2 linked regions of the Homo sapiens genome follow. The protein of the gene in region 2 purifies or fractionates together with the protein of the main gene of each other region. This does not show direct contact. Each region holds a gene or a part of one and is shown on either strand. Other genes may lie near its edges.

Evidence for each region. The genes of interacting proteins can lie anywhere in the genome.
Region 1: the proteins of TCAIM (region 2) and OGDHL purify together in Homo sapiens (affinity purification with mass spectrometry; one large-scale study listed by BioGRID and IntAct). This does not show direct contact.

The regions. Positions count from the first base shown.
Region 1 is NC_000010.11:49,733,731-49,739,057, reverse strand, and holds the end of OGDHL (2-oxoglutarate dehydrogenase-like, mitochondrial), read left to right. Parts: intron 1-795; coding exon 796-867; intron 868-985; coding exon 986-1,111; intron 1,112-1,199; coding exon 1,200-1,272; intron 1,273-2,537; coding exon 2,538-2,701; intron 2,702-2,880; coding exon 2,881-3,035; intron 3,036-3,706; coding exon 3,707-3,830; 3' UTR 3,831-4,417; downstream 4,418-5,327.
Region 2 is NC_000003.12:44,403,912-44,407,992, reverse strand, and holds part of TCAIM (T-cell activation inhibitor, mitochondrial), read right to left. Parts: intron 552-4,081; coding exon 311-551; 3' UTR 1-310. UniProt on the Homo sapiens protein: May regulate T-cell apoptosis.

The sequences.
Region 1 (5,327 bases), on a different chromosome or scaffold from region 2:
TATCCCTGAGTGGCATGTTATGAGCACTTTACAGGCTGCATACTCGGCATCCTCACAACACCGGGTATCAGTGAGGAGGGAGGTGAGGCTCCCTGCTTGGGGCTGCCTGCCGTGAAGGCAGCTTCTTGGGAGGCCAGATCTGGGCCAGGCTGGGTGTGGGGGGCTGGGTCCTTGGCCGTCCCCACCAAGAGAGGGCAAGTGGCAGCTGTGCAGTGGGTCATCCCCGTCCTGCAGGAGCTGGCTTGGAGATGCCCCTGGGCTTGTCTTGCTGCTTTCATGGAGCAGAGCGGTCCGTGTGGGTGAGGGTGGGCGAGGCCCAGGCCGAGTTGGGTTGGCCCCTGCCTGGCTGTGTGGTCATGGGTGGTTTCTTACCCTCTCCTTGCCTCTTCATCTGTGCAGTGGGGAAGAGTGTCTGCATCATGGGGCTACTTTGGGGGTTAGCGATAAGGCGTGTGGGATTCCTAGAACTCTGCCTCCTGTACAGCAGGTGCTCAGTCAGTGGCAGCCACTGTTCCAGGACATTCCAGAGAAAGCACGTCTCAGTGCGGGCTTTTTGCTTTTTCTTCTGTCCCTGCAAGTTCACATACTGTGCTAGCTCTGGGCAGACCCCACTCTGAGGATTCCCATTCTGCTCTTGTTCCACATTCTTGGTTCTTTTCTATGGTTCAGGCTCCAGGGTGAGGGCACCTCTGCTGAGAAGCCCTCCAGACTTTCCCCTGAGCCTGGGGTCCCTGCAGGGCCAGATGTCTTTCCCATGGTGGGGTCCAGCCTTGGCTGTCTGGCGTTTGCTTTCAGGGCCCAGAGCACTCGTCAGCGAGGCCCGAAAGGTTCCTGCAGATGAGCAATGATGACTCGGATGCCTACCCTGTGAGTGTTGCTGCTGTCCCCAGGACAGGGACGCGCCCTATTGTGCCCACAGGGCTAGGGGTCCAGGGTGTGGGTGCAGCAGACAGCCACCCTGGCCATATGCATCTCGTCCCCACAGGCATTCACCAAGGACTTCGAGGTGAGCCAGCTCTATGACTGCAACTGGATCGTGGTCAACTGCTCCACACCGGCCAACTACTTCCACGTGCTGCGCCGGCAGATCCTGCTGCCCTTCCGCAAGCCGGTGAGTCTCCGTCCCAGGGCAGGGGTCACAGGCAGGGGGCCTGGCCAGGCAGGGCCAGCTGGCAGCTGGGCGTGTATTTCCCTTCCAGCTGATTATCTTCACACCTAAATCTCTGCTGAGGCACCCAGAGGCCAAGTCCAGCTTTGACCAAATGGTATCCGGTACGTGCCTGGCCTGGGTGTGTGGGGTAGCCCACAATGGGGCGGTGGCCCATTGTGTGGCTTCTGCTTCTGGGGCTTCTCCAACCTCCCCTCTGCCTGTGGCTCTGCTGACCTGCAGCAGCTCCTGGCATGGTCCCACTAGCAGTAGGGTTGGGAGGTTGGCACAATGGCTGACCTGGGCCAGCTCAGGTCATGTGGGTTGCGTCCATGGTAGAGTCCACTGGGGCCCCCTTAGACCCTAGCAGGGCTGGTCGAGGCCTGGCAGAGGCCTGCTGAGTTCGCAAGATATTGAGTATCATTCATTCATTTGTCCATTTTAAAAATTCATGAGCCAAACAGACATTACAGGCCCTGGGGTCCTGGTGTCCCCTCCAGGAGTCTTTGGCCTTATTTCCCTGGGAGTCAGATCAGATAAAACACTATAGTTGCAACTGAGAGGTGACTATGTCCAGGGAAGGACAGGTGTGAGGCTGGTGGAGCAGAGCTGTCTTGGAAAATGGTCCTGGGCAGTAGAGGGAGGGCTGGGAAGGGCCTCAGCATGGACAGGGGTTGGATTTTCTCCCATGTGTGTTTGGATGTCCCCTCTGTGCAGGTGGGCAGCTGTTAGAGCTCTGATGTCGGGACTGGACTACCTGGGCTACCTGCCCTGTGCTGGCTTCTCTCTTGAGGGCCTGGGATCCATTTGTCCTCTCTACCCCAGAGTCTTCACCTGAGATGCAGGGATGTGAGGACACTACAGTAGCTTCCTGAGAGGTTTTGCAGTGTGCGTGACCTGGGGTCAGGATCATGGGCTCAGGAAGGAAGAATGGTTGGGGCTTGGAGGTGAAGCTCAGCTGCCAGGCTGAAAGAGGAGGAGCATGCAGCAGCCTCCTGGGACATCTGCTTAGTGGTGGGGGACTGCAGTGCTCTGCAGGAGGTGGGCGCAGCTGGGCAGAAGCAAGGTTGGGGCAAAGGATGATGCCATCATGTTGCCTTCTCTGTCTCCTTCAGGGCGCTTCTTATTGTACCCCCACCTCCGGTCACCTTAAACGTGATGCTTCCAGGGCTCAACCCTTGGGTGTCTCCACCCCTCTCCCTATGACAGCTCAGGGTGTCATCTGCCCCCTGCTCCATCTTTTAGTTCAAGAGGTGTCCACTGCAGCCACAAGTCCAAACCTGCAGTTAGTGTCAGTGGCTAAGGAGAGCCTGGGGATGCAGGCCTGGTCCTGAGCTGCCCCAGCCCCTCTGGGTACCAACGCCTCTGCCATGTCCTGTTGGTCCCTCAGGGACCAGCTTCCAGCGGGTGATTCCTGAAGATGGGGCCGCAGCACGGGCCCCTGAGCAGGTGCAGCGGCTCATCTTCTGCACGGGAAAGGTGTACTATGACCTGGTGAAGGAGCGGAGCAGCCAGGACCTGGAGGAGAAAGTGGCCATCACGCGCCTGGAGCAGGTGTGCCTGAACCCCTTGTACAGTCAAGTGATGGGCAAGCTCACGTCGCTGGCCCCGGCTCTGGCCAATGTGCCAGGCAGGCCAGATGAAGGCCGGTGAGGCCCTGTGCCTCCTGTCCGGGGGTGCTGGGGACATACCGCCCCTCCTCTGGCTATGCTCCTTTGTTTCTGCCTCCCCAGATCTCTCCATTCCCCTTCGACCTGATCAAGCAGGAGGCAGAGAAGTACCCAGGTGCGGAGCTGGCCTGGTGTCAGGAGGAGCACAAGAACATGGGCTACTATGACTACATCAGCCCACGCTTCATGACCATCCTGAGGCGCGCACGGCCCATATGGTACATGGTGGGGCCGCTGATTGCCCCTCACCTCGGCCCTGAGGCTCTGTCCTGGCTCCATCTGTCCCATAGGCCATGCTACCCAGAACTGGCCCTGCCCTTCTCTGGTGATGAGCAATGATGGGGCATCATCAGTACTGGCTTTGTGTTTGTTCTGCAGCCAGAACTGTATTAAGGAACCTGCTACATGTCTCAAAACTCCTGCCTTAGATCTTAGGCCGGTTATGTAGTCCTTGGAGCCTTAGTCCCTGCATCTCTACAAAGGGCGGTGATAAGATTAGATCTGATGTATGTATTAGCTCTGGCACATGGTGCGTTCCCAATACTGGCATCATGTGTTCCTGGGAAGATGGGAGAGGGTCCTGAGAAACTCCAAGAAGCCAAAAGTATGTTTGTCCCCAAAGTCTTTGAGTTGTTGCCTCATTTGTTGTCCTCATGGGCAAGTGCAGTGACATGGAGGGACAGTTTCTCCCCACTCTTCTGTGGCTAGGTGACTGAGTTTGATCCGGGCTTTGCAGCTCATTGGAAGTGGTGCCAGGGCCAAAAGGCAGGGTCTATGGCTTCGAGGTCAGCGGTTCTCAGATGCGTGCCCCCTGCAGTCCCGGAGTGAGGGCAGCGGTTGGGGGGCGGCTAGGCCCCGCCTTCCCCTTAGCTTGTCTCTCCTCCTCCAGGTATGTTGGCCGGGACCCAGCGGCTGCACCAGCCACAGGAAACAGGAACACTCACCTGGTGTCACTGAAGAAGTTTCTGGATACTGCCTTCAATCTCCAGGCCTTTGAGGGCAAGACATTTTAGAGCTGGGCAAAACCTGTGTAGGTCTCGCTGTGGGTTTGCTGGGGACCAAGGGGGTGATGAAAAGGGGAGGGGCGGAGCTCCTGCCCAGGAGAGGGGCTGTGGGGCCCCAGGATAAAACAGACACAGTGACAGGGCCAAGAGCCAGCACTGCTGGCCTTGGTGTCATGCCAGAATCTACCAGGACTGAGGGAGCCAGAGGAGTCCTATAGGCAGGCTACTGTGCTGGAGCATCCCCCAGCTGCTCCCATCTTGCTGGAATTTCTTGGGCGGCTTCTCCACCTGTATCTCAAGACAGACACCCGGGGGCCTGTGTCTGTGGCCGCTCCCATCCCGGCAGCCCTGGCTGCTGCTCGCCCCACCCTCGCTTATCTGTAGATTCAAAGCGATGTTCTCTTCTGTGCTCTTAGAAGTAGGGAGTTCAGCAGTAACAGCCAGGTGAAGCGAACCTGCTGGGTGATTTGTTTGCGCTCTGTTTTATGGGGCATTCCTGCGAGATGTGTCAGCTTCTGTGTGAAATGCAGCCACAGCTCATGTGTACCAAAGTAGAAAACCAAATCACAGAGAAATAAAAACATGCTTCAGAGAGATTTGCTGTTTTCATTTCATGTTGTAAAACTGGGGGAGGGATAGGCAGTTGAGAGAAGGTAGGGAATGGGGAGAAAGTTAAAAAAATGGAGAGAAGAAAATATCTGCCTCCATGGATATTTTTTTGAGACGGAGTTTGGCTCTTGTCACCCAGGCTGGAGTGGAGTGGTGCGATCTTGGCTCACTGCAACCTCCGCCTCCCAGATTCAAGTGATTCTCTTGCCTCAGCCTCCTGAGTAGCTGGGATTACAGGCATGCGCCACTATGCCCGGCTAATTTTTTTGTATTATTAATAGACGGGGTTTCACCATGTTGGCCAGGCTGGTCTCAAACTCCTGACCTCAAGTGATCCGCCTGCCTTGGCCTCCCAAAGTGCTGGGATGACAGGTGTGAGCCACTACGCCAGATTTTCATTTGAGCACCAGGTAGTGTCTGTTGGCTTCTCCACTCTGGCCTTTTGTGGGTTTTGCTTCCCTGTGGAGATACTGGAGAAGCTGCCACAGAGGAGGGATGTTTTGCTTGGAACAGATCATGTGTTCATTTATCCCCTTCTCAGAGCACTTCCTCCGTGCGGGACACTAGGGCCCGGGTGGAAGGCATCTGTCTGCATGCTGGCTTTTCGCATCGGGAGTCCAGTGGGGAGACATGTCAGCTGTTTAATTCATTGAGTTACGAGTTATGTTGGAAGTCAATGCAGACAGCTGTGGGTGTCAGGGAAGGATCCCTGGAAGAGGTGGTGTTCAAAGGAAGAGGAAAAGAGAGATGAACCTCTCTGGAACAGACAGAAATACTGACCATAGGGCTGGCATGAGCAACCTAAAAGAACGATCAGCGTGAGGTTGGACAGTGGAGTGTTAAGTTTTATCAGCCTCAAAAATAGCTTGTTGAAAAATTAGCTGGGCATGGTGACAC
Region 2 (4,081 bases):
TCTTGTTCTGTTGCTCAGGCTGGAGGGCAATGGTGCAATCTGGGCCCACTGCAACCTTGGCCTCCTGGGCTCAAGTGATCCTCCTATCTTAGCCTCCCTAAGTAGCTGGGACCGCAGGCATGAGCCACCACGCCTGGCATATAAAACCTCTCCTAGCAGAAATTAATTTTTTTAAAAAAGTCTACTTTTAAAGCAGCAGTTAGAAACTTTGTTCTTATGTAAATAATACTGTTATATCAAATTGTGGATTTAAATATTTTTAATTTAAGTTCCTTTCTTATCTCTTAAAAAAATAAAACAGATTTCTGTGTTACTTAATGGCTTCTCCATTCTTCCAATTCCAAGGAATACAAAGGTCTCCATCTTGCATAACAGAGTAAAAATGTGAAATGCAGAGGTGCATCCCATGTAGGTAAGGCAGTGATTGTTCTAGAAGTCTCTTACAACAATCCACCATTTGTATACTAGAAATGCTGGGCTCTTTATATAACTTCTCCAAAGAAAATTTCTTTGTTGATGCCTGTATCAATTCATTTTCAATAACCTTTAACCTATTATATAGAAAATAAAAATATTGTCATAAGAACAAATATTGTCATAACCAAACAAAAGAACACACAATGTAAATATATTCTTACATGTTGGGGCCCTAACTGTGCACTCACAACACTGAAAATGCCACCCACAAAGGCCAAATTATACGTTTGGAAGACACGCCAATAGCCATCATTGTTAAATCTTTTGAGTTACTGTCACATGGATCTCTAAAAGTATTTGTTAATGTTTTTAGCAGTAAAGGGCTAAAAATAACATAAATTTAAAAAAGCTCTTATATTGCCTTACCTAGCAGCTGTTAGTGACTGAAGGAAGGAGAAAATGAAGAATATAAAACCCCTAGTTTTAGGACCCACCTAAAGTTTAACCCTTGGGAAGTAATGCTGTCTAAAGATTTCCCAGATAAAAGCAGGCTCACAGAAAACCAGGATCCTGAGGAGGACAGGTTCTCTTCACTCTTACTCTCCTACCTCACCAGCCCCCTGTCTGTTCCCTCCCCTCTGCCTGAGGTTACAACTCTCTTATTCCATCAGGGGCTTCAGTTCAGGTCTACAAAGTATACAACTCTAGGCAGAACTCAGTGTCTCAAATACTTTCTCCCACAGGTGGCAAGTGCTTAGGGATACAGTGTTTTGATAAGTGGATTCAATGTGCTACATCTAGACCAACACATGAGTTACTCAGCAAGCCCATTTAACAACGTGAATAAAGCAAAACTGCCATGGTCGTGTCCCTGAACCAGTCTATTTAAAATACTTCATTGGTTTAAAATGTCCAAATATCTTACATTTAATCACCCTTAAACACTGCATAGAAAAGTAGGTACTATAAAATTTCCATAAACTAGACAGTAAAAAACAGAAATGGTCATAGCAGTTAGTTATCATGGCCTATAATACTGATCACTTTCTTAAGTGCTGTTTGCTTTTTCTGTAAGATTATTCTTACTTAGAATATGCTGCTTAGAGATTCAAGCAGACAGACAGCAGTCAGGGCTGATGGTTCTGCAAATGTTTCACAGCTGGGCCTGCTTCTAATCTCTCCAGGATTAGACAGAAAGAACCCTTAAACTTCTATCAATAGCAGGGGATGAGTAACTTTTTCTGTAAAGGGATTTTTCACTTGTCAAGAAAAGATATTAACAACCATGCTTGGAAGTGAAAAGCCTTGTAGTGTGACCATGTTGCTGCATAGTTCTCCAACAATATATCTTTAAAATCTGGGCAAGACTCTCATTTTCATTCCTTTTAGGAGAAGCCTACAGTCTCATCTCCAGGTTTCCCAGACCCATGGGTCACAAGCTTTATATCAGGAGAACCCATCAGTTCTTCTGAGGTACAATCTTAGAGAAGCATTGAGAAGGCAGCCCTTGTTAAGGTTGCCCAGGGTTGTCCCCTCAACAGGAAAATAACGTGTACCAGCCTTTCCTCATCCTTGGGTGCCTCTGCAGTCAGCATGAGATTAATTTTTTTTTTTTTTTTTTTTTGAGATGGAGTCTTGCTCTGTCGCCCAGGCTGGAGTGCAGTGGCGTGATCTTGGCTCACTGTAACCTCTGCTTCCCAGGTTCAAGCGATTCTCCTGCCTCAGCCTCCCAAGTAGCTGGGATTGCATGCATGTACCACCATGCCCGGCTGTTTTTTCTATAGTAGAGGCAGGGTTTTGCCATGTTGGCCAGGCTGGTCTTCAACTACTGACCTTAGGTGATCCACCCGCCTCAGCCTCCCAAAGTGCTGGGATTACAGGTGTGAGCCACTGTGCCTGGCCTTGAGATAGGGTCTTGCTGTTGCCCAGGCTGGAGTATCACTGTCGTGACCATGGTTCACTGCAGCCTTGACCACCCAGGCTTAGGCAAACCTCCTGCCTCAGCTTCCCAAGTAGCTGAGACTACAGGTGCAAACCACCACACCCAGCTAATTTTTAAATTTTTTGTAGAGACGAGGTCTCACCATGTAGCCCAGACTGGTCTTGAACTCCAGGGCTCAAGTGATCCTCCTGCCTTAGCCTCCCAAAGTGCTGGGATTATAACTGTGAGCCACCATGCCCACCCTTTAGTCATTGTTTCTACTACATGCAAGTATCAGAACTACTTAAACACTCTTCTATTACTGTACATTTTGATTGTTTCCAACTTATTTAAGTGATTTTAAAATTTGAAATATATGATATAGAGTAAAAGGAAACATCTGAGTGGGTTACTATAAAAACATAAAGTGAGGAATGCCCCTGCTAGGGAGAGCTGGTTGATTCTCAGGTGCAGGTTACTCTGGGTTATTACCACCCTACAGAAGAACTGTGAACTAGGTTATCACCAGCCTCCAAAGGACTGGGGGTTCCACAGGCAGCAAATACTGTCTATATGCCAGCCAGGCAATGCCAAGAGACAGGAGCTACAAGTCACACAGTTTTGGGATGGTCATGTGGGTTGTACATACTAGCTTAGAATAGTGTGGGTTTTTTCCCTTTTTCTAACTATTCAGCAAGCTGAGAGTCCAGCAGAGCTGCTACTGTGAGGACCCTGTGAGCATGGGTGGCCTCTGGCTCCTTTTCTTTTGAACTAGAACAGCTGAGAGCTTTAATCTTTTTTATTAGGTTGGTGCAAAAGTAATTGCAGTTTTTTGCCATAAAAAAATGGCAAAAACTGCAATTACTTTTGCACCAACCTAATAAAAATAAACTATGTTTCCACTTAAGAATCCACCTTATAAGTGAAAAAGTATCTGAAAACCACTCTCTAGGAACATGCTTCACTGAAGGAAAGAAGTTAGTCTTCATCACTGCTCTTCGAATATAATGAAGGTGTCTTACTAGGGCAGGGACAGCAGAGCAAAGGAAGGAAAGACAGCAAAGGCGAGGAGAGGCTCCTGGGCCCAGAGTCAGGGGCATGAGGATGATGACTGAGCAGGAAGGAAGGTTGGGACCAACAGCAAGTGCTTTCTCTTCTTGGGGGCTAAGTATAGGGATGAGGACTCTGGGGCCCAGAGCCAGAAAAAGGCTAAGGAAGCAGGTGAAAGGTCAATCGGTATTTCCTGAAGGCCCCCTGTGTGCCAGGCACCCATCCCAGTTGGCACCGGAGGGAACAAAATAGACTGAAGTCTTCCCTCAGTGGGCTTACCTTCTGTTGGGAAGGAGAGAGAGAGAATACATTAATAAGGAAACAGCAAATTTGCTGAGGTGGATGGAGAAAGGCAGGCCAGCTGAGGTGGAGAGGGGAGTGCAGCAGAGGGTGGGGACTCCATGCTTCGAGTTGTGTGGCCAGAGAAGGTGGAATGTGAGCAGGGCCTGAGGAAGCTGAGATTTCTGAGGAAGGAGTGCCTCAGGCTGGGGGAAGGCACACAGGCCCAGGAGTGGATAACATGTCAAGAGTGCCCGAGGACTATAAAAAGGCTGGAGCAGAACGAGTGAGAGGAGAGTCCCAGGAGCTGAGCTGAGAGAAGCAAGGGAGTGGGCAGAGGGTCTGTGGGCACTGGGCAGAGGAGTGACAGCTCTGACTAGGTTCCCACTGCTGCTCTGACGAGAGTCCACTGCG